3 separate regions of the Homo sapiens genome follow, and regions 1 and 2 are each linked to region 3. The links come from fine-mapping of genetic effects on gene expression. A gene starts in region 3. Each other region holds a variant in brackets. All regions are shown on one strand. Distances are between the middles of the regions.

Region 1 (8,556 bases), 35 kb before region 3:
GCCAGGCAGAGGCCCGGGTGGCCGGCTGTGGACCTGCGGCTGCCCTGGTGCAGCGTTGTTCTGGTCCCCGAGTCGCTTGGCTCCTGCCTCCCGAATCCCGGACGCCGCCGCGTGTGCTCTGAGGCACGAGGGCCTCACCACTGACGGAGGCGGGGAAGCACGCCTGCCTCTGCCCTGTGCTGGCCACGGTTCATCCTGGGCCCCGGGTGGGTGGCTGCAGCCCCGGCAAAGAGACGGCCGCCCACACACCAGCCACTTACCATGACCGCCCAGTTGCACACGTTGAGCTGGGGCTGCGCGGGGACCAAGGCCTCCTGGTGCTGCTGGACGACCGAGGTGATCCTGCTGAGGGCCTCCTGGTACTCGGCGCTGGCAAAGCTGGGGACAGAGAGCTCTGGTCACACGGCTGGGGCTGACAGCGAAGGACGGAGAGGGGCTGGCCTGGACAGGCTGAGGCTGCAGAGCTCTAACGGGCTGAGAACCACAGTGAGCAGTCACTGGGACCATGTGCTCAAGCCTGCAGCGGCCCCGGGCCTCGCTAGGACAGGCAGCAGGCACCCGAGCCATCCTCTGCCCTCAGACTCACGGGCAAGAGAGGAAATGAAGGCTCAGCAGGCCAAGCCCTGGCAGAGAGGCTGTGAGTAGAGCCGTCCCATCCTGTCCCTGCCTGTGACCAGGACCCGGGATATGTGGGCTGGGGCCTGTGGGTCTCCCCAGCACTCACTACTACGTAAACATTTACAAATATGACACACCCTTCTTTCATTACAAAAGCAACGTCATCCCATTGCCAAAAAGCAGGAAATGGAGGGGAACGGCATCTGCAGTTCTAAAATTCCAATGCAAGCTGCGGAGTGTTTGGATTCCTTTCATCTTCACGAAGATACGATTACACGGCTCGACGAGGTGCCACGGTTCGCGATGTCAGGGCCGCAGTTTGCGATGCTGTGAATCTTGGGTCCACGGCGCCGTCATGCTGTGCTCTGAGGACATCTGCACAGATGATGCCTTTTCACCATTTTCAATCACTTCTAATATCGACAACATCCACATAAAAAGACACCTGCCATCGCTGCCATAGCGGAGATGCAGGGAGGAACTTCTGCGAGTGTGGCTGAAGCTGGAGTTTCTCAATGCCCAGGCTGGGAGCTGCGTTGCTGCTGGTGGGGACGTGGACCGGAGCAGCCACTCTGGAAGGTGGTGTGGCAGCTCCTTACAAAGCTAGAGACGGGGTTACCAGGTGAGTCAGCTCCCCTCCTGATGGCAGCACCTGTCCAGGCCCAGTACCTTCTGGGAGGTGAGCCCGGACCCACTGAAGCCCAGTCTTCTGCCTTGGACGCTCAGCAGTCTGTGAGAACTGGCTTTTTGCTCCAGAACCTTCCCTAAAAATGAGGCTTCACACGGAAGCTGCATGCAACAGGGACGGGGATGCGCCCCCCTCCCCACCCCCGGCCACCTGCCCCAGCCTCTTTCTGCTCGATCCACCCACTCCCTGCTTAGGCCTCAGGCCTGGGGTTGCATCAGAGGGCGACCTTCAGGAGAGCTGGGGTCCTTCAGGGCTCCCCGCTTGGTGCCCGCGGAGATGCCTGTCCTGGTCCCAGCCTGGGCTTCACACAGCGCCCCTGAGCACAGGGTCCATTTTTAATCCAGGAGGGTCTCAGGTGCATTTGTGTTTCTGCAGGATTCTGTGGCCAAATACTGCTGGTTGAGAACTGGCGTGAACTGCACGTGCACTTTCTGACGGTGAGCGTCCCCGAAGGCCGTGGCCTGGCTTGTTGCTTTAATCTTGTTTATTTCATTTATTTTTTAGAGACAGGATCTTGCTCTGTTACCCAGGCTGGAGTGGTGAGACAGCAGCTCACTGCAGCCTTGACCTTCCAGGCTCAAGCGATCTTCCTGCCTCAGTCTCTTGAGTAGCTGGGACCATAGATCACTGTGCCTGGCTAATTTTAATTATTATTTTTTGAGAGAGAGTCTCGCGCTGTCACCTAGGCTGGAGTGCAATGGCATGATCTCAGCTCACTGCAACCTCCGCCTCCCTGGTTCAAGCGATTCTCCTGCCTCAGCCTCCTGAGTAGCTGGGAGTACAGGCGCCCGCCACCACGCCTGGCTAATTTTTATATTTTTAGTAGAGACGGGGTTTCACCATGTTGGTCAGGCTGGTCTCGAACTCCTGACCTCATGATCTGCCTGCCTCGGCCTCCCAAAGTGCTGGGATTACAGGTGTGAGCCACTGTGCCCGGCCTTAATTTTTTATTTTCTGTACCAGTAAGGTCTTGCTGTGTTGACCAGGCTGGTCTCAAACTCCTGGGGCTCAAGAGATCCTCCTACCTCGGCCTCCCAAAGTGCTGGGATCACAGGTGTGAGTGACCATGCCTGGCCCCGTCGTCTTTTTTTCTTTAGACGGAGTCTTGCTCTGTCACCCAGGCTGGAGTGCAGTGGTGCGATCTCAGCTCACTGCAACCTCCGCCTCCTGGGTTCAAGCAATTCTCCCGCCTCACCTTCTCGAGTAGCTGGGATTACAGGCACCGACCAACACATCCAGCTAATTTTTTGTATTTTGGTAGAGATGGGATTTCACCATGTAGGCCAGGCTGGTCTCAAACTCCTGACCTCAGGTGATCCACTCACCTCAGCCTCCCAAAGTGCTGGGATTACAGGCATGAACCATGGCGACCGGCCACCCGTCTTTAATTTAGAGAGGCTCCTGGCAAAGTGACATGTGTGTCTGTGTCTGAGAAGCAGCCCACGGTGAATCAGGCTGTGTCATGGGTGTGTGACCTCAGGGACAGTGGTTCTCAAAGGCATGGCCGACAGCTGGGCCTCCTTGTGACCCCCTCTGGGAAGCTCTGCCTGCTGCCTGGGTTTGCTTTGAAATAACCCTGCCTTCTCCAGCTGTGAGGGCGGGGCTGGGTGGCTGTGGTGGGTGGGACTGTGTCTCTGCTCTGGCCTGGCTGGAGGGGCTCCAGCAAACGCAACAGGCGGGGAGCAGTGGCCCTGAGGACCCCCCTGTGGATGCCAATCACGCCCAGTGGACGCGAGGGGGCACCGCCATCCAGGCTTTAACCTCGGGTGGTCCCTGGAGCGACCAGCCTGTGGGGGGTGTGGCGGGCACCGGTGTGGCCAGCAGCTTGTTCTGTGTAACTGGGGCCTGCAATCTGCTCCCCGTGGTCCCCCTGGGACGGCGCTTCCAGCTGGGGGGGCTGTTGGCTCCTCAGTGACTTCTGCGGGCACAGGGGGCTCCCAGACAGCCCCTCCAGCTCCACAAGGCCCCAAGCTCCAGGCCCCCCATGGTTTCACGGGTCTCACCCCCATGGGTGATCACGAGTCCCCCGGGGGCGTCTGTCTCTGTATCTCGGCACCCCCACAACATATGACCATGAACTGGGGCTTAAAACAATGAAACTGCAGATGCCCCTCACTTTTCCAGAGGCCAGAGGCTGAAACCAAGGGTCTCAGGGCTGTGCACCCCTGGAGGAACTGGGGCTCCTTCCTGCCTCTTCCAGCTCCAGTGGCCCCAGGTGAGCCGAGGCTGGTGGCGCTCTGTCCAGTCCCCGTCTCGTCCCGTGGCCTTCACCATGTCTGTGTCTCCTCCCTCTGGACTCAGGGCATTTGGCCTTGGACCCAGCGCCACCCGTGCCTTAATCACAAGGCACAGGCCCTACTTCCCTTCAGGCCAAGCTGGGAGGTGTGGGTGGACCTGGGCCTGGGGACACTGCTGTCCACTCCAGGCTCCATGCTGCCTTCCCGCAGTCACCATCCTGGGCTTCTGAGCTGGACGCTCGGTGGAGGAGAGGTGCTGCCGAGGAAGTGCCCAAGGGATCCCTGAGGGGCTGCAGCCCAGGAGCCTCACCGCAGGCTCAGCCCCGTGGGAAGGCGGCTGCCCCGTCCAGAGGGTGCAGGAGCCTCAGGGCACCTTGGCGGTGGTGCTGCCACCCTCGGTCCTGTACTGCTCTCTGCTGCCTCCCACCGGCCCTACTCAAACCCAGGCCCATCGGGGAGCATAGAAAGCCTGGGCAGGGAGCAACCGCTGTGCTCAGGCCTGGTTCTGCCTCTGCACGCCACTCCCCTGATGCTCCTGGGTCTTCCCAGGACCAACTCGATAGGGCAGGAATGCTGGAGACCACTAGGCATGCACGTGCCCCAGGACCCCCAGGCCAGGAGCAGGAATTGGGG[A/G]CCTGCTCATCCTGCTGGGGTGAGGGGGGGAAGCCTCCAGGTAGCCCTAGCCCAGGGAGATGGGTTCGGACAAAAAAAAAGGAAGCCAGGGCGGGGTCTCCAGCCAAGTGTTGGGGCCTCTGTGTCGCCCCTAAGGAGCTGCCAGCAGGTGAGTCTGGTACTGGCGACCATGACCCTCAAGACTCCTGAGGGTAAGGGGAGGGCTTCCCTGAAAACTGGCAGGTGATGGCGCAGACTCCGGCATCCTCGGTGGGGTGAGGACAAGGCCCAGAGAGCAGAGGGTGGAGCTGGGGCTGGTGGCTTTCTGCCATTCCTCCTGCTAGCTGACCTGTGTCCTTGTACCTCCTACTTGCCCCAGGGCCTGGACCCCTCCCCTCTGGCCTCAGCCATCCCCAAATGCAGCTCAGAGTAGGGGATACATCACTGGGGGCCAGGTGGATGGTGGCCCAGAAGGGGCAGAAGTGGGGAGACCACCAGGGTGGGCAGCAGCAGGCACCCTGGGAGGAGGGCAGGCCACCAAGCACGTGTGGGTATGAATAGCAACAGCAGATGCAGGCAAGGGGAGGCGGCGGGCAGGGTGCAGAGGGCTCTGTCCCTGTGGAGCCTGCATTTGGGGGAGTCCGGCTGGCACTGCCTCAGCAGCCAGGAGGCCCTGCACCGACTCACCTGAGGGGGAACCTCTCCCCTGGGTCCCGTCCCAGGTGGAAGATCAGGGGCAGCTTCGTGTGGTCTTCCAGATTGTGAGTTGTGACCCCTGAAACGTTCTGCCCAGGGCAGAAATCAATGCCCTGCAATGAGAAGAGGGAAGGTGTGTCCTGGAGCCCCTGACCTGCGGCCGTGAGGGGCCTCGTCTGCCCGTGTCCTGGAGCCCCTGACTGCGGCCGTGAGGGGCCTTGTCTGCCTGTGTCCTGGAGCCCCTAACTGGGGGCCGTGGGGGGGTCTCGTCTGCCTGTGCCTAGCAGCGTCCCTGGTACTCAGCATGGTGCAGGGCGCTGGCTAAACGCTGAAGGACTAGCGGGCCCATAAGCATCCTGTGGAGGAGGTGAAGCCACCCGCTCTGGGCCCGAGATGCGTAGCTGGCATGCCTCACGTACCCTGTTTTCATGTACCCCTCTTCTTTGCGAGGCAGGTGAGTGTATTTAAAACACCTTAGCCAGCCTCAGATCTGGACTGCCACTAATTTCATGGAGGAAAGCCCCTTTTAACAGCCTACTCTCTGCTGGGGAAGGGAGGGGAGGGAAAGGGACGGGAAGGGAGGCCCTGCCCTGGGAGAAGGGAGAGCCACAACGCTCAGAATCCCTACAGAAACCCTAAGACAGGGAGGAGCAGGACCAACATGTGAAAGGCAAGAGAAAACACAGAAAACAAAAACAGACCCAGGGAGCTGACACAGATTCACACACTCAAGAAGGGCAAGGATTTTACAGTAACCACAATTCTCTTTCTGCTGCCCCTGGGCCTCCTGATTCGGGAAAGGCGAGGTATGCCTCTAACATTCCCAGAGCGGGTGCTGCAGGCCAAGGGGCTCGTCCGAGGACTGTGCCCAGGACGGCCCTCGCAGGCGGCAATGCCGGGGACCGATGCCCAGGACGGCCCTCGCAGGCGGCAATGCCGGGGACCGATGCCCAGGACGGCCCTCGCAGGCGGCAATGCCGGGGACCGATGCCCAGGACGGCCCTCGCAGGCGGCAATGCCGGGGACCGATGCCCAGGACGGCCCTCGCAGGCGGCAATGCCGGGGACCGATGCCCAGGACGGCCCTCGCAGGCGGCAATGCCGGGGACCGATGCCCAGGACGGCCCTCGCAGGCGGCAATGCCCGGGGAACGATGCCCAGGACGGCCCTCGCAGGCGGCAATGCCCGGGGACCGATGCCCAGGACGGCCCTCGCAGGCGGCAATGCCGGGGACCGATGCCCAGGACGGCCCTCACAGGCGGCAATGCCGGGGACCGATGCCCAGGATGGCCCTTGCAGGTGACAGTGCTGGGTAAAACCCGAAAGAAGAGCGGGTGCGGGGCCTGCACAGGGTGGGGAGGAGCCAAAACACTCCTGGGCATCATTGCCCTCCAGACACTGCCCCACGAGCAGCTTCCCTCCTCAGCCTGGGTGCTCAGCCCTCAGCCCCAGTTCTCACTTCCAGTCTTTAGACTCTCCATTACACTAAATGATTTTCTTCCCAATTAAGGCAGATTAGCAGGGGGTTCATATCTCAAGACTTTGATGCTGGGAGTGGGTGGGGCTGAGAGAGACCTCTCAGGAGGGGCTGGGGGATGCTGGAGCGTAGGGGTCAGCAGGGGCCAGAAAAGACCGTGGGGAGGGAGCAGGAGGCTTGAGGCGAGGGCTCGTGGGAGAAAGCCTGGCGCTGACAATGCTGGGGTAGCCTGGGGCGGCAGGAGCCCCAGGCCCTGTGCGTGTGGCGTTTCACCCTCCCACACTGGGGGTTGCTGTGGTGATGCCAATGCTGCGGCCCCCATGTAGCACCTGGGCCAAGCAGGCCACGTCTCTGTCGCCTCCAGCCTGGGGTGTGGGGGAGGCTCAGATGCCCTGGCAGGATGGAGAGGCCCATGGGGGCCACCTGACCAGGGTCTAGGCCACGCCTGTAGCTATGCCGCGGGGCTACTGTCATCACGCGGGGCAGGAAGAGGTCCCTCCCTCCTCTCCAGCCTGTCAGCTGCCATGCCCTAGGCCACGCTGAACGACTGGGGGCCACACAGAGAAGGCTGTGGAGGGGGTGGAGTTCCTGCCTGTCTCACCCTCCTGTGCCTCCCCCAGGACGGTGCTCAGGGGCCACGTCTGGATAGAGATGGGGGCAGCTCCGCCTGCGCCCACGTCCCGAGCCCTGTACCTGTCTGAAGTTCTCCCAGGAGTTGGTCCAGGTCCAGAAGTGAGCCTTGTGCTGCCCGAGGGTGGCCGCCATCAGCGTGTCGCCACGGTAATAGAAGATAGGCCTGTGGGATGGGAGGGGAGGACCATGTAATGACAGGAAGGACACGCTGGGGCCACCTGGAGGCTCTGGGCTGCGTCTGTCATCAGTGGCTCATGCCTCCACGTGAGGTCTTGGTTGATACTTTACAAAGATGATTGAAAAGTAAAAAGGCCCGCAAGGTGGCTGGGGCTGGGGTGCCTGGGCGGCCGGGGCTGGAGCTCCTGGGTGGCCAGGGCTGGGGTGACTGGGTATCTGGGGCGCCTGGGTGTCTGGGGCTGGGGTGTCTGGGCGGCCGGGGCTGGGGTGACTGGGTGTTTGGGCGGCCGGGGCTGGGGTGACTGGGTGTCTAGGGTGCCTGGGTGTCTGGGGCGCCTGGGTGTCTGGGGCTGGGGTGTCTGGGTGGCCAGGGCTGGGGTGCCTGGGTGTTTGGGCAGCCGGGGCTGGGGTGCCTGGGTGGCCGGGGCGACTGGGTATCTGGGGTGCCTGGGTGTCTGGGGCTGGGGTGTCTGGGCAACCGGGGCTGGGGTGGCTGGGTGTCTGGGTGGCCGGGGCTGGGGTGACTGGGTGTCTGGGGTGCCTGGGTGTCTAGGGCTGGAGTGCCTGGGCGGCCAGGGCTGGGGTACCTGGGTGTCTGGGCGGCCGGGGCTGGGGTGCCTGGATGTCTGGGGCTGGGGTTTCTGGGCAGCCGGGGCTGGGGTGCCTGGGTGTCCGGGACTGGGATTCCTGGGCAGCTGGGGCTGGGGTGCCTGGGTGTCTGGGGTGCCTGGGCGGCCGGGGCTAGGGTGCCTGGGCGTCCCCTCATTGCTGGTCCTTGGCAAGGCTGGGCCAGACCCTGGGGAGGGTGGGCAGACAAGAGGATAAGCAGGCGGCACGGGGTCTCCTGACCATGTTGGGCCTGCGAGTCAGGAACGGGGAGTGGGGGACGCAGCTGGGCACCGTCTCTCCCCACAGTGACCAACCACTTGTGCCAGGTCTCGAGAGGGGACAAGTGAGCAAAACTCCCTCTACCCGGCCCCAGATAGCCGGAGGCGGCAGCTGCCTTGGGCCGTCCCCACCTTGCTTCCCGTTGAGCCTTTGGAATCCTCATCCCTTCAGGACCACCCAGGAAACGTGGTTTGAGTGGAATGGTGGCTGCTCTCAGGGGGTAGGAAATGGACTTTGGACACTAAGGATTTGGACAGAAGGTAAGAGCTGGGCCATGGACTTGGCAGAGCAGCGACTTGGATGGAAGGAAGAAGGAAGCTACAGGAAGCCATGAGGCACCAAAAACCAGGCTGGGCAGGGAACAGGGGTGGGGCAGACAGGGGCAGCGTGTGCCCGGGCTACAGACAGGGAACAGGGGTGGGGCGGGCAGGGGCGGCGTGTGCCCAGGTACAGGCAGGCAACAGGGGTGGGGCAGGCAGGGGTGGCATGTGCCCGGGCTGCAGGCAGGGAACAGGGGTGGGGCGGACAGGG
Region 2 (10,712 bases), 220 kb after region 3:
TAGGGATAGGAATACTTCCACCCCCCAGGTCCTTGAGAAGACCAAATGAGGTGATACTCTGCGCATGTTCTTGGTGCAAGGAAGTGACTACCCACATGCACTGTCGTATCAGGGACACAGGTTAGCCACGTTCATCCTCAGAGGTACCTGGGAGTGGAAGCATTGTTACCTCCACTCACAGAGGAGACCGAGGTACTGAAAGGTTTAGTAGCCCACCTGAAGCCATGCAGCTAGTAGAGAAGGAGCTGGAAATTCAACCTGGATGGTGATGATGGTGATGGTGGTGGTGATGATAGTGGTGATGATGATGGTGGTGATGGTGACGATGATGATGATGGTGATGATGACGATGATGATGGTGATGATGATGGTGGTGATGATGATGGTGGTGATGGTGATGATGATGGTGGTGATGGTGATGATGATGGTGATGATGATGATGGTGGTGATGATGGTGGTGATGATGGTGGTGATGATGGTGATGATGATGGTGGTGATGGTGATGATGATGGTGATGATGATGATGGTGGTGATGATGGTGATGATGATGGTGGTGATGATGATGGTGGTGATGATGGTGATGATGATGGTGGTGATGATGATGGTGGTGATGGTGGTGATGATGATGGTGGTGATGGTGATGATGATGGTGGTGATGGTGATGATGATGGTGGTGATGACGGTGATGATGATGGTGGAGATGGTAATGATGATGGTGATGATGATGATGGTGGTGATGGTGATGATGGTGGTGATGATGATGGTGGTGATGATGGTGACGATGATGATGATGGTGATGGTGATGATGATGATGGTGGTGATGGTGGTGATGATGATGGTGGTGATGATGGTGATGATGATGGTGGTGATGGTGATGATGGTGATGATGATGGTGGTGATGTTGATGGCAGTGATGATGATGATGATAGCAATGATTATAGTGGTGATGGTGATGATGGTGGTGGTGGTGATGATGGCAATGATGATGGTGATGATGGTGGTGGTGGTGATGATGGTGATGATGATGGTGGTGATGGTGATGATGATGATTGTGGTGGCATTGTTCTTGACAGTTTATACATATTAACTCATTTAATTCTCACAATAAGCCAATGACTGTGTCCATTTTGCGAGTGAGGACAGTGAAGCAGAGAGAAAGTAACTTGCTTAAGACCACACAGTCAGTAAGTGGCAGAGCAGGGACTCGGGGCTACACATTCCAGTTGGAGCCCATGTCCAGAGCCCACGTCCACAGCTGCTGCGCTGTCTTGCTCCATGAAGCCATGCTGCTTCACACAGTATCTCACGAAATTGGGGGAAGAGGCTGAGTTCAGAGCACAGGGTGCACCCCCACTGGAAGGAGTTGGAATTATGCAGGAGGTGCAGTGGACTGAATGTTTCTGTCCTCCCCAAATTCATATATTGAAATCCTTATCCCTAGAGTGATGGTATCAGGTGGGGCCTTTGGTGGGTGATTAAGTCATGAGGGTGGACCCTCGTGAATGAGACCGCTCCCCTCATGAAAGGGAGCCGAGAGAGCTACCAGCCCTCTTTTCGTCATGCGAGGACACAGCGAGAATCTGGCCATCTGCAGCTTGGAAACGGGCCCTCACCAGAACCTAACCATGCCAGCACCTTGATCTTGGACTCCAGCCTCCAGAACTGTGAGACAGAGAGGTCTGCTGTGTATAAGCCCTCAAGCCTGTGGTCCTTTCTTATAGCAGCCCGAGCTGTCTGAGGCAGGAGGCGAGATTTAAGCTGTACCTTGAAGGGCATCTATAAGTGGGCCAGGGTGGGAGGGTCTGCCTGGGAATGGAGCAAGGTCTCAGGGGGAGACTCAACAACTGGAATCTGGCTCTGGGGAGCCTGAACTCCAGCTGCACCAGTGGGGCCTGCCTGCAGCCCACATCTTCCAGCCACACATCCCACCCACCAGCTAGGCTCTCTCCCCATGCGGGCAGTTTGGGGGCGTCTTTGCCCGTACCCCTCCCTGTCTACCATGAGCTCGTCCCCCAGGCTGAGCAGAGCCACATGTGGCCCCTGATGGGCCAGAGTCTACAGGACTCAAGCAGGGACAGCCGGGCACCCTAGGGGTGCTGCTGGCTGGTGGGAGGGGGATCCCTCCAAGGTGTGCCAGGGTCCCTCGGTGCAGCAAGGGGCATGGCCCTTACCCCCACCCCCCTTGCCCCCCCCACCGCCGTCCTTGCCCTCCACCAGCACCCTCACCACCCCCGCTGCCGCCCTCACCCCGCACCACCACCCTTGCCCTCACCAGCGCCCTCACCACTGACTGCTGCCACCCTCAGCCCCGACTGTCGCCCTCACCCCTGACCACCGCCCTCACCACCCCCACCGCCCTCACCCCCACCGCCACCGCCCTCAACCCTCCACAGCTACTCTCACCCCTCTGCCGCCGCCCTCGCCCCCCCACCGCCGCCCTCACCCCCCCGCCGCCGCCCTCAACCCTCCGCCGCCGCCCTCACCCCCCCGCCGCCGTCCTCAACCCCCCAACGCCACCCTCGCCCCCGCCAGCACCCTTGCCTCGCCTGCTCCCTCTGCCTCAAAGCAGAACATTCTGGACTTGGGGTGAAAAGCCTGGATTTGAGCTATGCTGCCCACCACTCTGCCTGGGTTTGCTTTTCTGGATAACATCTGCCTGCCTGCTGTGGCTCCACTGGTTGCCCCCCTGGCGCCACATCTCTTCTCCTCTGCTGCTGGAGTCCAGGTCTGCCCTCCTGGGGCACCCGCCCAGCTCACAGGCAAACCTACCCGGTCTCGGGGGCTGTGACTGAGGGGTGTGGCAGAGGCTTCGGGTGTTCACTGGGAGCTTCCGCAGGGGAACCGGCCTGGTAGGAACGGCCGCTTTGGGGAAGGCAGAACCATCGGGAACCAGCCTCAGGGTGCAGGCTTCCAGGACAGTGCTCACTCTGGGCAGAGCCACCACCACATTGCTTACTCGTCCCCACAGATGGAACAGGAGCGAGGTCGCCTGTATCCTCCGGGAAATGCTCCTGGAGGTCAGGGCAGCCGGGTGAGCACTGGGTCCGGCTGCTCTCCCCAGCTTCTCTTCTCCAGTCAGCCAACCCAGCCTCCGCGAGAGACAGAGGAAAGACAGACACGGCGTTGGCTGCGCGGGGGCCTGCATCCCTCCCGACCTTCTCATTTGATCCTCCTGCCCTATGCGGTTGGTGCCAACGTTCATCCCATTTTACAGATGAGTAAACTCAGCTTCAGTGAGGCCGGGGCCTTCCTGGAGATCACAGAGCAAGTGAGCCCAGGCCTCAACACCCCTCTCCCCTCCGCACCTCTGCCGCCCCCTCCCGGTTCCTTTCCCGACTCTGGACCCCACGGGTGTCCTGGGCTCTGCTGCGGTGTTCCTGGCTCCGCTCTCTTCCTACCTCCTGGGCCGGCAGGGGAAAGTGCTCCCAGCTGGGGCCACCACACCCTGACCTGCCCATTCCACTTTCCTCAGCTGTAAAGCAGGGAAGTCAGGGCCCCTCTTTATGGGCTTGTGGAGTTGAATGGGGTCATGTTGTGTAAATCCCTAAGCCCAGTGCTGTCTCGGAAAAGACCTCAGTTCCGGGTTTATTGTTCTCTCTCCCACTCAGGCACCATCAGTCTCAACTGTCGCTGGCCGGAGCTGGCTCTACGCGTTTCTTTCCTCGTACTCTGTGGTCTACAAGGACAGGAGGTGCTGGGGGCTGGCTGGCTCCTCGGGGACAGTGGGGAGCCGTGTAGGAAGGGACACCGAGGCACCAAGGGCCCAGCAGGACCTGGGGAGGGGGTACAAGGATGGCTGTGCTGCAGCAGACTGGCTGCCTCCACGCCCACTCTGGAATGGCCGGGGCCAGACTGCGCAGCTGTCGTTTTGATTGAATCCAGATGCCCCTGGTACTCGAGACAAATGTGCTCTGGGGAGCGTTTAAATAAAAACACAAGGATCAGAGGTGTTCCCAGGGGCCAGTTTCATGGGGAGCCAGGGAGAGGGAGGAGTGGGCCCTGTCCCTACACCGATAGCAGGTGGCCCAGTCCGTGACCGGACACAGCTCCCCTCCACCCACCAACCTCCTGGCCACCTGCTGGGGCCCCCCCGAGTCTGCAAATCTCCCTGAATCTGTTTCCCCACCATGTCACCGGGCACCCAGGAGAGCTGCACCTGCAAGTGACTGGGTGCTTGGCCCAGGGGTGGGTGCTGGTGGGTGAGAGTGGTCCCTATCACTATCACAGATGATAAGTGACGTCTGTCACACCGGGAGCCTGGGCCGGGCAACCTGGCACCCATTTCCTCTCTTGGAAGTGGAGGCCCTGAGGCTTCTGAGCGCGCAGGGCTGCTGGGAGGACGAGTAAGAAAAGCGGGTGAAGCACAGAGCCCAAGGCTCCGTGTGGCCCCCCCAGTCAGCTGAAGTCGTGACCCTCACCGCAGCCTCCGCCCCGCGCCAAGCCTGACTGTGGTGGCTTCCGATGGGTGTCCTCCTGGGCTTCCCAAAGCAGGAGGTGAGGTGCAGGACAACGCTGGCGCAGGCTGGCTCAGAGGCACAGCAGAGCCGGGTCCTGCACGGCCAGGCGCATCGGGAGTGGCCTTCCCTGGCTGTCAAGGTGTCAGGCAGCTGCCTTTGTGCAGGGCACTTACCTGGAGTGCGGTGGCCCCGAGGAATCTCGTTTTTTTTTTTTT[TTTTTTTTG/T]TTTTTTATACAGAGTCTCACTCTGTCACCCCGGCTTCAGTGCAGTGGAAGGATCTCAGCTCACTGCAGCCTCTGCCTCCTGGGCTTAAGCAATCCTCCCACCTTAGCCTTCTGAGTAGCTGGGACTGCAGGTGGGCACCACCACGCCCAGCTAATTTTTAAATTTTTTTATAGGGACGGGGTCTCGACCTGGACCAACCCAGGCTGGTCTCAAACTCCTGGGCTCAAGCAATCCACTTGCCTAAGCCTCCCGAAGTGCTGGGATAACAGACGTGAGCCGCCACACCCGGCCTTCACATGGTTTGAGCCGCCGCACCCGGCCTCTCACATGGTTCTTCTCACGGGCGCTCCCCACATGTGCGGACCCCTCCTTCGTGGCCTCCAGCTTCTATTTAGAGAGGGTGTGACACGCTGAGATCTTTCACACGGGTGGTGACGGGACTGAATCGAGTTGCAGGACGCCAGCGGGTATGAGAGCTGCTGCTGTGGAGAACGGCAGCACCATTTCCACACCCACGTGTGGCACTTGGTCACGGCCCATGCGGGAAACAACTACACCCACCTATTTCCCTCCCAGAAAACCTACGTTTTTCTTCCCAAGACAGACACTGTGTGCTCACAACACCCTGTTGCTGCCTTTCCTGAGTAGTATGTGTGCAGGAGTCCTCACAGCAGCCGTGTCGCAGGGAGCAGGCGCCACGGCCTTGGAAGCCAGCACAGTCAGCGAAATTCCGTAGGGAGCTGGGACTGACACGGCCCAGTCATGTCATGGATGAGCCATGTCATGAACGACTCATGCATGCACCAGTCACGTGAGGACCTGTCACGTGTGGACCTGTCATACATGCACCAGTTGAGTGTGGACCTGTCATGTGTGAACTTGTCACGTGAAGACCTGTCACATGTGAACCTGTCACGAGGACCTGTCACGTGTGGACCTGTCACGTGTGGACCTGTCACGTGAGGACCTGTCACGTGTGGACCTGTCACGTGAGGATCTGTCGTGTGGTCCTGTCGTCTGTGGGCCTGTCACGTGAGGACCTGTCATGTGTGGACTGTCACGTGTGGACCTGTCACGTGTGGACTGTCACGTGTGGACCTCTCATACATGCACCAGTCACGTGTAGACCTGTCACGTGTGAACCTGTCGTGTGGTCCTGTCGTCTGTGGGCCTGTCACGTGTGGATCTGTCACGTGTGGACCTGTCATACATGCACCAGTCACGTGTGGACCTGTCGTGTGGTCCTGTCATCTGTGGGCCTGTCACGTGTGGACCTGTCACGTGAGGACCTGTCACGTGTGGATCTGTCACGTATGGACTCTCACGTGTGGACCTGTCATACATGCACCAGTCACGTGTGGACCTGTCACGTGTGAACCTGTCGTGTGGTCCTGTCGTCTGTGGGCCTGTCACGTGTGGATCTGTCACGTGTGGACTGTCACGTGTGGACCTGTCATACATGCACCAGTCACGTGTGGACCTGTCGTGTGGTCCTGTCGTCTGTGGGCCTGTCACGTGTGGACCTGTCACGTGAGGACCTGTCATGTGTGGACCAGTCATGTGAGGACCTGTCACGTGTGGACTGTCACGTGTGGACCTGTCATACATGCACCAGTCACGTGTAGACCTGTCACGTGTGAACCTGTCGTGTGGTCCTGTCGTCTGTGGGCCTGTCACGTGTGGATCTGTCACGTGTGGACTGTCACGTGTGGACCTGTCATACATGCACCAGTCACGTGTGGACCTGTCGTGTGGTCCTGTCATCTGTAGGCCTGTCACATGTGGACCTGTCACGTGTGGACTGTCACGTGTGGACCTGTCATGCATGCACCAGTCACGTGTGGACCTGTCACGTGTGAACCTGTTGTGTGGTCCTGTCGTCTGTGGGCCTGTCACGTGTGGACGTGTCACGTGTGGACCCGGCTGAAGGCAGGATGCCTCAGCCAATCCTATGCCTGGGCAGGGCGGGGGATGCCTCTGCATTTTCTGAGCCCCATGGCCCTGCAGTGCTGCTGGGTGGCTGTCACAGACCCAGGCCAGCCCCTCCTCCCAGGCAGGCAGCTGGAGCTGCAGGGGAGGGTGTCACGGCCAGCCCAAGAGGCCTCATCCCTGCTACCGGGTACCTGCCGTAGCTATGTCCAGCCCAGGTCACTGAGTGTGTAAACACACCTCACGTCCGCGTCGAGAAGGCGTCACCAGTGCCTGCTGAACAAAGAAGGTCTGGCCCAGTGTGGCTGCAGCCAGGAGGCCAAGGAGACCAGTGAGAGCACCGCCCTCGCCACTGACGCTCTTGCTGGGCTCATTGTTGTGCTGGGCCCAGTGGAGCAAAAGACAGGCCTCCAGCCGGGGCACCTCCCAACAACTCTGCACCCTTGATTGAAATGCAATGTCTGCGGCTGACGGCCACGTGACTGCAACCCACCCTCCCGGCTGCCGATTAATTTTACCTTTTGTGCTGCCAGCTGCAGTGGGTTCATGGTGAGAGCTGAGTTGATGCATGCGAGTGCGAGGGTGTGTTAATGTGTGCACATGTGTGACTGTGTGAGGGTGTATATGTGTGTGTACATACATTGTGTGCATGCGTGTGAGTGTGTACACTGTGAGCACATCTGTGAATGTATGCGGGTGTGTCCCTATGAGCACGTGTGTGTGCACGTGTGACCGTGTGAGGGTGTATATGTGTGTGTGCATACATTGTGTATGTGAATGCATGTGAGTGTGTACACTGAGCACGTCTGTGAATGTATGTGGGTGTGTCCATATGAGCACGTGTGTGTGCACCTGTGACCGTGTGAGGGTGTATATGTGTGTGTGCATACATTGTGTATGTGCACGCATGTGAGTGTGTACACTGTGAGCACGTCTGTGAATGTATGTGGGTGTGTCCATATGAGCACGTGTGTGTGCACATGTGTGACTGTGTGAGGGTGTATATGTGTGTGCATACATTGTGTGCGTGCATGTGAGTGTGTATACTGTGAGCACGTCTGTGAATGTATGCGGGTGTGTCCATATGAGCACGTGTGTGCACGTGTGACCGTGTGAGGGTGTATACATGTGTGTGCATACATTGTGTATGTGCAGGCATGCGAGTGTGTACACTGAGCACGTCTGTGAATGTATGTGGGTGTGTCCATATGAGCACGTGTGTGTGCACATGTGTACATGTGACATGTGTCACTGTGAGCGGATGCATGAGTGCATGTGAGTGTCTGCATGTGTTAGTGTGTGTGGCTTTGTCCATTGTGAGCATGTGTACTCGTGTACATAGGTGTGTGAACACAGGCATACAAGCGTACGTGGTGTGCGTTCACTGTGCATGTGAATGTGTGTGTGTGTGTGGGCAGGTGGCTGTGCACGCACATGTCTGTCCACTGTCTGTGTGTGCTCATGCATATCTGCGTGTGGGCATGTGGTTGGTGTCATATGTGGCTGTGTGAGTGTGTGCACATGTGGAATATGGGTGTCTGGCTGTATCCGTGTGTGAGTGCACACGTCTGTGTGTGAGCATTTGATTGTGTGAGCACGTGCACACTCATACAAGCACAGATGTGAACCATTGCCCTGGGGCCTGCTTGTGCTACCTGTGAGCAGAGGAGACATCCTGAGGAGGCTCCACTCCCAGCCCAGCCCGTGGAGGGACACCCATGGCCTCAGGTCTCCAGGCTCCCGACGAGCTGTTAGCCAACTCAGTCCCCAAAGCAAAGCTCCAAGTTGGCAGTTGAGGATTGGAGCCCAGAGTGACTTGTCAGGGGTTTGGGGACCCAGGGAGGAAGGCCTAGGAAACCCGGGCGGGCCCACAGGGAGGCTGGCCTCCTGTCGGCCAAGGAACAGAAGAAGCAGAGGATGGAGCCCACAGGGGCTCCCACCTACTATTCCCAAGTCACTTGTCACCAATAATAACGTCCATGCTTGCAAATAAACTACGTTTAAAAGTAACAAAATTCAACATTGCCCTTGTGTGGCATCACTCGGCTTCCCTGGGGTTCTCCAGGAGGATAGAGGCCCCAGGACTCAGTGACGCTGAGATGGGCGCCCCCGGCGTGTCTGCACCCCCTGCAGGACGTCCTGGAGCCTCCGTCAGCCACACTCATGGAGTCGGGCCCCGGACCCGGGGCAAGGCAGCCAGAAATGACTCTGTAGGTGGCCCCCATGCAGCCAGCCCAGCTCCTGCCTCAAGGACACTTCGCAGGGCTGGGTCCAGGAGGTTGCTGGGCTCCAGTCCCAGGTCCCACCTTCATCACTGTGACCGCGGCACCTCTCGGACCCTCATTGGAAATTGAAAGAGGGCGCAGCCATTGGCAAGACCGCTGTGGGGGTGGGAGCTCTATAAGCCGCCCCTGGCGAACTCCATTGTCGGGGGGCCTCTATAAGCCGCCCCTGGCGAACTCCATTGTCGGGGGGCCTCTACGAGCCGCCCCTGGCGAACTCCATTGTCGGGGGGCCTCTACGAGCCGCCCCTGGCGAACTCCATTGTCGGGGGGCCTCTACCAGCCGCCCCTGGCGAACTCCATTGTCGGGGGGCCTCTACGAGCCGCCCCTGGCGAACTCCATTGTCGGGGGGCCTCTACGAGCCGCCCCTGGCGAACTCCATTGTCGGGGGGCCTCTACCAGCCGCCCCTGGCGAACTCCATTGTCGGGGGGCCTCTACCAGCCGCCCCTGGCGAACTCCATTGTCGGGGGGCCTCTACCAGCCGCCCCTGGCGAACTCCATTGTCGGGGGGCCTCTACCAGCCGCCCCTGGCGAACTCCATTGTCGGGGGGCCTCTACCAGCCGCCCCTGGCGAACTCCATTGTCGGGGGGCCTCTACGAGCCGCCCCTGGCGAACTCCATTACTGGGGGGCCTCTACGAGCCGCCCCGGTGAACTCCATTGTCGGGGGGCCTCTATAAGCCGCCCCGGTGAACTCCATTGTCGGAGGGCCTCTATAAGCCACCCCTGGCAAACTCCAGGGCTCACCTCAGGTCGGATCGAGCCCCCTCTGGGGTTTCACTGAAATCTCCAGCATTTTCAGAGACACCAGGAGCCCTGGATGAAAGGAAGACTGGCACCCTTGGTGGGAAGGACCCTCCCCCGATTTTGGAACAGAGGAGGCAGAGCTCCTCCTGAAGGCTGGCACCTGCCCCGGGGCTCTCCTGGTTACCCCGCAGCAGGATGAGCCCAGAGGGTGAGCGATGAGGCCAAGGTTGTCAGGAAGGGAGGGGCAGCTTGGTCAACGCTGCCAGGAAGCTCCGACAGTATCTCCAAGGACATGAAGGTCTGAAAAAGAAACAGGAAAATACAGACATCCCCGCTTAAGCAGGGTTTGTTTTTCTTTTTGTTTTTTTGAGACAGAGTCTTGCTCTGTTGTCCAGGCTGGAGTGCAATAGTGCAATCTCGGCCTCCCGGGTTCAAGTGATTTTCCTGCCTCAGCCTCCCGAGTAGCTGGGATCACAGGCATGCACCACCACGCCCGGCTAATTTTTTTTTTACTTTTAGTAGAGACAGGGTTTCTCCACGTTGGCCAGGCGGGTTTCAAACTCCTGACCTCAGGTGATCTGCCTGCCTCAGCCTCCCACAGTGCTGGGATGACAGGCGTGAGCCGGTGTGCCGGGCCCAGGGTTTCCCTTTTTCTGCAGTTTCAGTTATCCATGGTCAACAGAGCTCCAAAAATATTAAATGGAAAATTCTAAAACTAAACAATTCATAAGTTTTAAATTATGCACGGCTTGATGAACTCTGACACCTCCCGCCCTGTCCGCCCGGGAGGGGATCCTCCATTTGTCCAGCGAGTCCACGCTGTGGACGCTCCGCACCGGTGAGTCCTCCAGGAGCTGCCTCTGCTGTCAGATCAAAAACACATCGGATATGTGGGGTTCAGGCATCCCTGGGGGTCTGGGAATGTGACCCCCTTGTATACAAGATGGCTGTATGGTTTTTCTCCTCCTTAGTGTCATTTTTATGTTAAGTGTATTTTTTATGTTATTTATTTTTAAAAAGCCACCCGGTTTTATTTCCAGGGCTTCATGTCACTCCACCAAATGGATTCTGT
Region 3 (9,942 bases):
GGAGGGTCTCATGCCCACGGAGCCTTGCTCACTGCTAGCACAGCAGTCTGAGATCCACCTGCGAGGTGGCAGCCTGCCTGGGGAGGGGCGTCCGCCATTGCTGAGGCTTGAGTAGGTAAACAAAGCGGCAGGGAAGCTCGAACCGGGCAGAGCCCACCGCAGCTCTGCAAAGCCTGCTGCCTCTGTAGACCCCACCTCTAGGAGCAGGGAATAGCTGAACAAAAGGCAGCAGAAACTTCGGCAGACTTAAACGTCCCCGTCTGACAGCTCTGAAGAGAGCAGTGGTTCTCCCGGCACAGTGTTTGAGCTCTGAGAACGGACACATTGCCTCCTCAAGTGGGTCCCTGACCCCCGTGTAGCCTAACTGGGAGATACTTCCCAGTAGGGGCCCACTGACACCTCATACAGGCAGGTGCCCCTCTGGGACAAAGCTTCCAGAAGAAGGATCAGGCAGCAATATTTACTATTCTGCAATAGTTGCTGTTCTGCAGCCTCCACTGGTGATACCCAGGCAAACAGGGTCTGGAGTGGACCTTCAGCAAACTCCAACAGACCTGCAGCTGAGGGACCTGACTCTTATAAGGAAAATTAACAAACAGAAAGGAATAGCATCAACATCAACAAAAAGGACATCTACGCCAAAACCCCATCTTTAGGCCACCAGCATCAAAGACCAAAGGCAGATAAAACCACAAAGATGGGGAGAAACCAGAGCAGAAAAGCTGAAAATTCTAAAAACCAGAGCACCTCTTCTCCTCCAAAGGATCGCAGCTCCTCGCCAGCAAGGGAACAAAGCTGGACAGAGAATGACTCTGACGAGCTGACAGAAGTAGGCTTCAGAAAGTCGGTAATAACCAACTTCTCCGAACTAGAGGAAGATGTTTGAATCCATGGTAAGGAAGCTAAAAACCTTGAAAAAAGATGAGACGAATGGCTAACTAGAATCAACAGTGTAGAGAAGACCTTAGATGACCTGATGGAGCTGAAAACCATGGCACCAGAACTACGTGACGCATGCACAAGCTTCAGTAGCCGATTCGATCTAGTGGAAGAAAGGGTATCAGTGATTGAAGATCAAATTAATTAGCCGAGTGTGGTGATGGGCGGCTATAATCCCAGCTACTCAGGAGGCTGAGGCAGGAAAATTGCTTGAGCCCAGTAGTTTGAGGCTGCAGTGAGCTGTGATCGAGCTACTGCACTCCAGCCTGGGTGACAGAGCCAGACCTTGTCTCAAAAAAAAAGTCCTGGCTGGGTGTGGTGGCTCATGCCTGTAATCCCAGCACTTTGGGAGGCTGAGGCAGGCAGATCACCTGAGGTCAGGAGTTTCAGGCCAGACTGGCCAATATGGTGAAACCCCGTCTCCACTAGAAATACAAAAATTAGCTGGGCACGGTGGTGGGAGCCTGTAGTCCCAGCTACTCGGGAGGCTGAGGCAGGAGAATTGCTTGAACCTGGGAGACGGAGGTTGCAGTGAGCTGAGATCACACCACTGCAATCCAGCCTGGGTGACCAGAGTGAGACTCCATCTCAAAAAAAAAAAAAAAAAAAAAAAAGGCCTAAAAGCCCCCAAATGATTGTCCACGTTCAGCGAGCACAGCTGTGAGCCATGGATCAGTATCCTTCAGAATTTCAGAGTTTTAAGAAACGCAGTTTCCATTCCTACTGGTTGCTATGGGATTATTATGAAGACGAGCAGGCCAGTGCTTGTCTGTTTCAAACGAGGGGCACTGAGCAACCCTCCCCGGACTCTGGTGGCTCGACGAGGCTGCTGTGGCAACAGGAGCTGGCCTGGGTGGCCCTGACTCTCCACTTCCTCTGTGGTCAGGGCTGACCCTCCTTAACCCTATTTTCCAAATAAGGAGTGGAGACACAGAGTGCTGCTCGCCCTGGGAGGCAGGAGCTGTGTGTGGGCCAGAGTGGAACTTGTCACTGGGTCTCACCTGTCTCCAAGGCCCCAGAAGCCCTGGAGAGCAGAGTGGGCCACGCAGGTTTCCTCACTCACGCAGCAGGTGCCCAGGGTACTACGAAGCCAGGCCGCGCTGGACCGTGGGTCAGTGAAAGGCCAGGGCAGGGCAGCCCTGGGGAGTGCAGGTAGACCCGTCCTTGCCCGGCTCAGCTCCCCCTGGACAGGTGGGGGCTCTTGCCAGCTGCTCTCACCCCTGAGTCCCAGCTTCCCCTTCTGGTCCCGACTCTGGGGGCAATGGTTCTCTCCCGGGTCAGTGTGACCAGTTGGAGAGTGGCTTCTGGCCATGAGGGGTGCAATAAGCTAGTTTTGGGGACAACCCTTTTCTGAAACTGCACTTGCTTAGACGAAAGGGGGGCCCAGGCCCCCCACTGCCCAGCCACAGAGGACTGGATAGGGGGAGACTGGGCTGGAGGCAGCCGGTCCCTGGAGGGCCATGCTCCAAAATCTGAACTTGAGACATGCACACTCGTCCTCAAGTGGTGCTGGGCCCAGAGCTGTGGGTCATCAAGCCATCCCATGTCATGCCAGAGGCCGAATGACCTGTTGCAGGTTCAGACGCCAGCGCCCTGGCAGAAACAACCGGTCTGCAGTGCAGGAAGAGGTGTGGACAGGGCTGCGGAGGAAGCCCCGGACTCCAAGGAGAGAAGACAGCCTGTGAGGACCCCCTTGCACCCTGGGCCACGTCAGGGCACCTCGGGGCTCCACTGTGAGCTTCTGTGGCTCTCACCTGCCAGCATCCCTGCCCTGTCCTGGCAGCTGCACCATGGGCCCTTCAGGGAACCCCCTCTCTGCTGGGTCCAGGCAGATGAGATGATCAGGGGCAGTCTCCCTTCTGGGGTAGGCCCGAGGCTCCGAGGCCTGGGCTGGACAGGTCAGCATGTGCCCCTCCCCCAGTGTGCTTGGCGCAGGGCTGAGACCCACATCACGCTAACATGACACGGGCAGAGCCAACCTCCCACTGGGTCTGCTGACTGCAGGGGTGACTTGGAGTCACCTAGGACCATCACAGGCTGAGTGAGGATGTGGCCAGTTCAGAGGCAGCAGAGCCACGAAAGGGGAAACTCGCCAGGCGGCCCTGGTCTGTCGACTCAGGAGGGCCAGGGAATCCCCACTGTTGCTTGTCACTTTGACTTCATCTTCTGCTGTCTGCATCAGAAAGTCCTTACAAGTACACCTACCGGCCAGGACACAGCTCCTCTGGGGTTCTTTAGGCGTCAGCTGCCAAACGACCCCACAAGCCACACAGTGGAGGCCACAGAACAGGTGCCCAGGTGGGCGGGGCTTCCTGTCACCCTCCCCCACATGTGCCCCGGTGGCCACACCCCACCCCTCCACCCTGCACGGCCTGAACCCTTGCTGTCCTATGGAAACGTAGGGTGAGTCCACATGCAATTCCCTATTTACCGGGAGCCACATTAGAAAAGCAGAAGTAGGTGAAATACAGACTAACTTTATATTTTATTTAACCCAACATAACCAAAATATTATTTCGACAAGTCTTCAACATAAAAAATTATTCATGAGCTGCCCCGCCTCACCCCTCTGTCCTCTGAGAAAGTCAGGAAAAGCAGAAACTTAACAGGGAGGCTTCACCTGCAGAGCCCAGCTCATCCAGCGAAGCTATGCTGGCCCAGAAGGAGTTACACAATGAAAAGAAGAAATTCTGAAACAAAGTATCTACACTGGCCCAGAGGAACTTCAAAAGTGAAAGGATGAAATTCTGAAGCAAAGTATCTTTAGGAGGGAGATGCCACTCAGTGCAGAGAAAGGCCCGGCTACTGCTGTCAGGACACGGACCCCTGGGCGCTGGAGAGCGTGCTCTGGAAAGCAGTCACTGCACACAAATAAGACATATGAGATGGAAAAGCAGCTGCCCAGGACTGTCGGCTGTCACCCCTGGGTGGGGAAATTATGGGTGGTGTCTGTTATCTTTTCAAGTATATCTTTATGTTAAAAAACCATTAATTTAATAAAATTGTTAAGTGAGATATTTTACATTATTTTTCTTTCACCAAGTCTTCTAAATCTGTGTATTTTACACTACCAGCACCTTCCAATTCCGACAGCCACGACTGCCCAGCCCTTGGGTGTGGCCCGTGGCCCCCACTGGTCAGCACAGGTGGGTCTGAAGGCACCTGTCAGGGTCTCTGCTGGTCGGAGCCAGCACACAGGGGCTGAGCGACACCGACGGCCCAAAACTGTCTGGTACTCGGTGTCGTCCCAGTCCTCACACACAACGTGAGCACGGCGGGACAGGTGTAACCCCCCAGGTGTGGCAGCTGAGGTTCAAGAATGGAAGTGACCCCCAAGCTTGGAGACAGTAGGGTTTCAACCCAGGTGTGTCTGGGGTCCTGCACGGTGACCCATGCCCCAGGCAGGCTCATTCCTGAGTCTCCAGGTGGCTCCCACAAGGAGTTAGGGAAGGAGGCCTCCAGGCTGGCTGTGACCCCTGACCCCGCACTTGCCCACCAGGAGACATTCCAGCCTTTCAGTTCTTCAGACCTTAGGGACACCTGACCTTCGCTCAGCATTCTCCAGAGGACAGAGACAGCCGTCAGGTAAGACTGGAGCCCAGCGGGGGGACCCGGCGGCCCGAGGTGGCGGGAGTGATTCCTAGGGCGACGCAGCTCTCAGGCAGGGCGGCAGGAGCAGCCTCTTCCTCCCTTTGGGGAGGCCACGCTGCGCGCCCACCTTTCCCAAGAGTAGAGGGCGGGAAAGGTCAGACGGGGGAGGCAGGGCCCGGTAGCACGCCGGCCACCCACCTGCCAGGGAGGACGCTGTCCCGGTCATGCAGCACAGTGGCAGCGCGTGTGGTGATCGGTGACCGCCGAGACCCCACGCCTGGACCCCGCGGCCACTCCCCGAGGGGCCTCCCCCTCCCCGCACGGGGATACCCCCCGTCCCCTCCCCCTCCTCCTCCCCGCGCGGGGCCTCCCCCCTTCCCCAAGGGGCCTCCCCTCACCTCTCCCCCCACCCCGCCCGCCCTTCCCCCACCTCGCTCCTCCCTCCATCCGCCCCTCCCCTCCCCGCCCCACCCCGGCCCTGCCCCGTCCCACCGCCCGCACTCACGTCGTCCATGAGCAGGAGCAGGATGTTGGGGGGCTGCGGGGCGCCCGAGGCCCCCATCCCCGCGGCGCTGAGCACCAGCAACAGCTGCCACCACCTCGTCGCCGCGACAACCGCCGCCATGGCAACCACGGGAGCCGCGGAGCCCCGGCCAGCGAGCCGACCTAGCGAGCGTCCGCCGGCCCTTCCGGCTGGGCTGCGGGGCGGGGCCTGGACGGCCACGTGACTCGCGGGGCGGGGCCAGAGTCCGCGGAGGGACGGGAGGCGGGGCCTGGACTGCCTCGTGACCAGTGGGGCGGGGCCTGAGCCAGCTGTGTGCGGATGGGGCGGGGCTTTGGAGGCCGCGTGACCAGCGGCGGGTCACGTGACGCGGTGCCTGGCGCCGAGCCTCCCAAGATGGCGGTGTGCATCGCGGTGATTGCCAAGGAGGTGCGTACGCGCGGCGTGGGGCGTCCGGGCTCGCACCATCCTCGGCTCTCCGCTTTCTTTCTACTTCTTCCCTGGGCTTAGAAGGCACCTTAGGAAATGGGACCTGGAGGAGGCCTTCGCCGAGCTCCAGCGGTCAGGGGCTTCGCGGTGGACGAGCCGCCAGGCAGACCCTGACTGAGACCCCAGTTCCGCGCTCGCCCGTCCCGCTGCTGAACGCACCCCTCGGCGCAGCAGGTCTCCTCCCCGCCAGGACCCACCAGAAACCTAGGTGGTCCCGGGCACTACCTCCGTCCTCCGTCCTCAGCAGGTTCTGCCCGTTCTCCCGTCCAGCGCTGGTTCCCCGCGGACGGCGGCCCCGGCCCTCCTGCCAGTCTCCCCGGAGCCGAGTTAAAAACAAATCGGATCCTGTCACGCCTCTGCCTGAGACCTCTGCAGTGGCTTCTCGTTGCCTTAGGATGCTGTCTGAATAACCTGCTCTGGGATCCTTTCCCCCCATAACCCTTGGCACTCTCCGCTCCAACCAAACAATTCTGCAGCTCCCTGGACATGCTCTGCCCTCTCACCTGTGGGCCTTTGCACGCGGAACACCTCTCCCCAGCTCCCATCCTCTTTACTGGCCCACATACATTTCAACTGGAAAGCATTTTCTGAAGGCTAAGACTGAGCTGGGTGGCTGCCCACACGCTCCTGCTGCACGGAGCCTTCATTTCCTAGCCAGGGTCTCCCGAGACCAGACTCGAGACCGCTCCCTGCTGGGCGGTGGCTGCTGCTAAGCTGCTCATGGGCTTCCCTCTTGGCCAAGATGATCATTTGCTTGTTTGTGGGTTTATTGACTAGGTATCACTCCCCACGAGGGTAGCGAGGACTCTTGTTCACTGTATTTGTGCAGGACCCAGTGCTGAACACACACAGGGTAAATGGTGGTGTGTGAAAGACCGAGAAAGAAGCTGTTAATTCTGGGCTTCCAATGGTCAGAAATGCAGAGATGAAGGGAATTTGAGCTGAGTCTTGAAGGGTTTAGTAAAAGGGTCACTGTCAAGGTGAAGAAAAGCCAGTATTGAGGGTGCTGTATTTGGGTGAGCCATGCAGAGTTAGAGGTGGGCTGAGGCAGAGTGGCCTCCAGGAGAAGGTGAGAGGCGTGCCCAGGTGCCAGGCTTGATCGGCAGGCTGTGCTCAGGCCCATTTTTCTGATTCATTTTTTCTTTTCCGCCCACCCTACTGCTGCTGCTTTGCAAACAACACATAAATCTCCTTAGGTTAGCTGGGATCCCCTGAAGGCAGTGCCCACTGCGGCATAGAGAATGAAGCGGTGGGCCTTAGAGCATGGGAATGCGTTCCCCGGGTGGCTGCAGGTCACGGCTCTGCAGCATAGTTCAGAGCTGGTGTGCGCTGGGTGGAGTCTTGTCCTTTCAGTCGCCGTCATCCTTTCTTGCAGAATTACCCCCTCTACATTCGCAGCACCCCTACGGAGAACGAGCTGAAGTTCCACTACATGGTGCACACATCTCTGGACGTGGTGGATGAGAAGATCTCCGCAATGGGGAAGGCCCTGGTCGACCAGAGGGAGCTGTACCTGGGCCTGCTCTACCCCACGGAGGACTACAAGGTGTATCTTTCAGGGCAGGGTGTGTGTCAGGGAGGACCTACAGTTGCAAGATGTACTTTAGGATCAGATAACTTGAAACCTTTTAGAAGAAAAAGAGGTGAGAGTTTTTAGCCAGCCAGGGAATTAGGGTAGCTTGAGGTGAATGAAGGCCTGTAACTCTTCTCTTTCATTGGAAGAGCCATTTGGGAAAAGCAAGGCTAGAATTCCCCGTAGAATGTTTTGGTTTGCACGTGTCCGTTGTCTGGTTTGCAGAGGAAGTGGGACACTTCTGCTTTGTACCTGCAAGGATTTCTTTCTGTGCTTTTCAGGGGGAGCCACCACCTTTGAGCAGGGGATAATAGTTTCATTTATTTCATTAGGCCTTGCCTCTTATGTCACTAGACACTCGTCTAGTCCCTTGGGACAAATCACTTGAGGCCATGGAATTCAAAGACCTTCCCAAAAGTCATCATGTAGCCTGTCCATGGTGACATTTGCTAGTAGCCACTATTTTACAAAATAATGTGGCCTCTAGAGAGGGGATCCGCCTTGTTCACGAAGCCTCTGGTTTTGCAGTTAACTTTCCGGGCCAGGCATTGATTCATGAAGAGGGTGAGGTGTTCCAGACAGACAGACTCGGAGTCTAGGTGGTTCGGCTCCTGGAGTGTGAACTGGGTAAGGCTTGGCTGCCTGCTCTTCGCTTCTCCTGCAAACACCAGACGTCGCCCTAGCAAAGTATTTAGGCTTGTACCCAGCACGGCCACTGCAGGACCAGCCCAGCATGGGCATTTCCTGTGATTCAAGGTTGCCACATTTCTCCAAAGTGAGGGCCCACAGAGGGCCCTCCACCGGCAGTCCCTGTGTTACGAGTGCCTTCCCTAACCAGCTGTGCAGATACGGCTACGTCACCAACTCCAAGGTGAAGTTTGTCATGGTGGTAGATTCCTCCAACACAGCCCTTCGAGACAACGAAATTCGCAGCGTAAGTCAGGGAGTTAGAGGGCCACGCCCGAGTGGGTGTTTTGTTTTTCCTTTTTGACTTTGTTTTGAAATGCTGAGAAACTAAAAATCTGGCAGTGGCTGTGTGTATGTGGCAAGGTCATGGTTTGCTGGGTCTTTTTCAGATGTTCCGGAAGCTACACAACTCCTACACAGACGTGATGTGCAACCCCTTCTACAACCCGGGGGACCGCATCCAGTCCAGGTGGGCCCTACTTTCTGTGTCTTGCCACCTTCTTTCTGTAGGACATGCCTTGCCATTTTGGTTGCCAAAATGCAACCATTTGGAAAATAAGGGAGGAAAGATCTTTTTAAGCTATGAGCACCATCCCCCTAGGGCAGAGGTTTTAAAGCCACAAAGCCCCGTTTCTCCACACCAACTCTTACACAGATCTCCAGCGCATAAAGTGGATAGAGTGTGTGTGGTGTGGGGAGTAGAGCTTGCCCATTTGGCTTCCCAGGTGTGCCCAGTGGGTACCTGGGGCACCTGCAGGACTCAGGGCCAAGCACATGGGCAGTGGCTTTCAGGGATCACACGTCCTTTTGTAGCTACCTGATCTTTTATGTTGAATTTGGAACAGTCAGGAACCTGGTTTGCAGGTGTCTTCCGAATAGTCCACAAAGTAAACAGATTTAACTTTTGAACATCATGAGGGAAATGTGGGGTCCATGCCCACATTCCAGACTTGCTTTCAGTGAGTCCCCAGTTCCAAGACATAATTCCCTGTGGTTGGCAGGGAAGAGGACGCTGCAGTGATCCAAGGCAGGCCCCTCCCTCCACCAGGACACTGTCTTGGGGCCATCCTGGTCCCAGATGGGAGCAGGCAGGCGAATGTCCACAGTCTTGCCTCCTGGGCTGCACAGGGCCATCCTTGCCACACCACCGCTCTGCCTGCCCATGCTGCTCCCTCCTCCACCCCTTCCTGGGGCCTTGGGAGGCTGCACAGGGAACTTGGAGGCAGCAGATGGGTTCTCAGTGCCCGGTGGGGTGGGACTCCTGTCCTGGCCTCTCAGCGGAGTTCACATTTCTGGACCCTGGAGAAGGTCCCGAGCATCCTGTGGATGGAGCCATGCTGCCCGGCCCGTCTCTGAGCAGAGGGGTGGAGGGCCTGGCTCTCCTCTGAGTGGGTCTGTTTCTCTTAGCAGGGCCTTTGATAACATGGTGACGTCGATGATGATACAGGTGTGCTGAGTGAGCTGTGCTGCCAGCCATCGCAGAGGAGCCCGCGCACGACTGTGGTGGGGCCGTCGGTCTGTTCTGGTTGCCTCTTCCTGAATGGGACGCCTGGGGCTTTCAGGGCAGGCAGCTGTGCATGTTCTCTCAACTAAAGGTCTTGTGAGAGGAGATTTGGCTTTTTCCTTCCGTGTCAGCCAAGGATTTAATTAAGAAGAATTCAACTAAGGACTTTTCTGGGGTGTGGGCAGAGGTTTGGGATCAGATGGCGCAGGTAGCCTGTCCTCAGTTGTCCCAAAGGGGCAGAGGCAGGGGTGCCTGGAGCCAAGAGTTCCTGAGCCTGCAGGACCTGTGACCATGTGGGTCACCCACTGGCTGAACAGGTGGGCTGGTCTGGAGGGGGTGGCCTCCTGAGCCCAGAACCAGCCTAGGATCTAGGGGCACAAGGGGAGCCGGCGTGGCTTCCCACAGGGGAGGGCCCTCCTCTTTCTGGACTTGGCCTCCATTCTTTGCATCTGGCTCAATGTCTGGATTCCGCCCGGCCTTAAAAGGAGCCCTTGTGAAACCTGGGAAGCCTCGTGGCCCCGCGGCGTTGGCTCAGCTGCAGCCCTGGTCCTAAACCTTGGAGCGCAGACTTGAGGCACCCCCTCCTGCCTGTTGGTGCTGAGGGGGTTGGGTGCTGTGTCACTTGATGACGTGGCTGACTACCACCCAGGGCAGCGG

What was found. PIP is the estimated chance that this variant, and not a neighbour inherited with it, causes the effect. A credible set is the group of variants that fine-mapping cannot tell apart.
Region 1: its variant is the best candidate, but not a certain one, in a credible set for the expression of GALNS in monocytes (Fairfax 2014, PIP 0.58).
Region 2: its variant is the best candidate, but not a certain one, in a credible set for the expression of GALNS in monocytes after Pam3CSK4 (Quach 2016, PIP 0.78).

What each region holds. Positions count from the first base shown.
Region 1 is chr16:88,817,747-88,826,302 of GRCh38, forward strand. GALNS (galactosamine (N-acetyl)-6-sulfatase) reads right to left here. Exons shown (of 14, transcript NM_000512.5): 11 at 7,021-7,123; 12 at 4,843-4,964; 13 at 261-378. Among named protein-coding and RNA genes, the nearest start is that of APRT, 10 kb to the left of the region's middle. RefSeq lists an enhancer at 39-1,238. The variant A/G (reference allele first, on the strand shown) is at 4,177.
Region 2 is chr16:89,068,506-89,079,217 of GRCh38, forward strand. LOC105371412 (a long non-coding RNA gene) reads left to right here and starts at 2,534. Exons shown (of 3, transcript XR_933889.3): 1 at 2,534-3,268; 2 at 3,609-3,691; 3 at 4,855-7,472. The variant TTTTTTTTG/T (reference allele first, on the strand shown) is at 4,673.
Region 3 is chr16:88,851,723-88,861,664 of GRCh38, forward strand. GALNS (galactosamine (N-acetyl)-6-sulfatase) reads right to left here and starts at 5,225. Exons shown (of 14, transcript NM_000512.5): 1 at 5,036-5,225. The coding sequence starts at 5,155. It overlaps TRAPPC2L (trafficking protein particle complex subunit 2L), which reads left to right and starts at 5,405. Exons shown (of 5, transcript NM_001318525.2): 1 at 5,405-5,461; 2 at 6,897-7,069; 3 at 7,941-8,028; 4 at 8,171-8,250; 5 at 9,192-9,942. The coding sequence starts at 5,429. The coding sequence ends at 9,237. LOC107983950 (a long non-coding RNA gene) reads right to left here and starts at 4,858. Exons shown (of 2, transcript XR_933884.3): 1 at 4,729-4,858; 2 at 3,406-4,579. RefSeq lists silencers at 3,219-3,288, 4,958-5,357.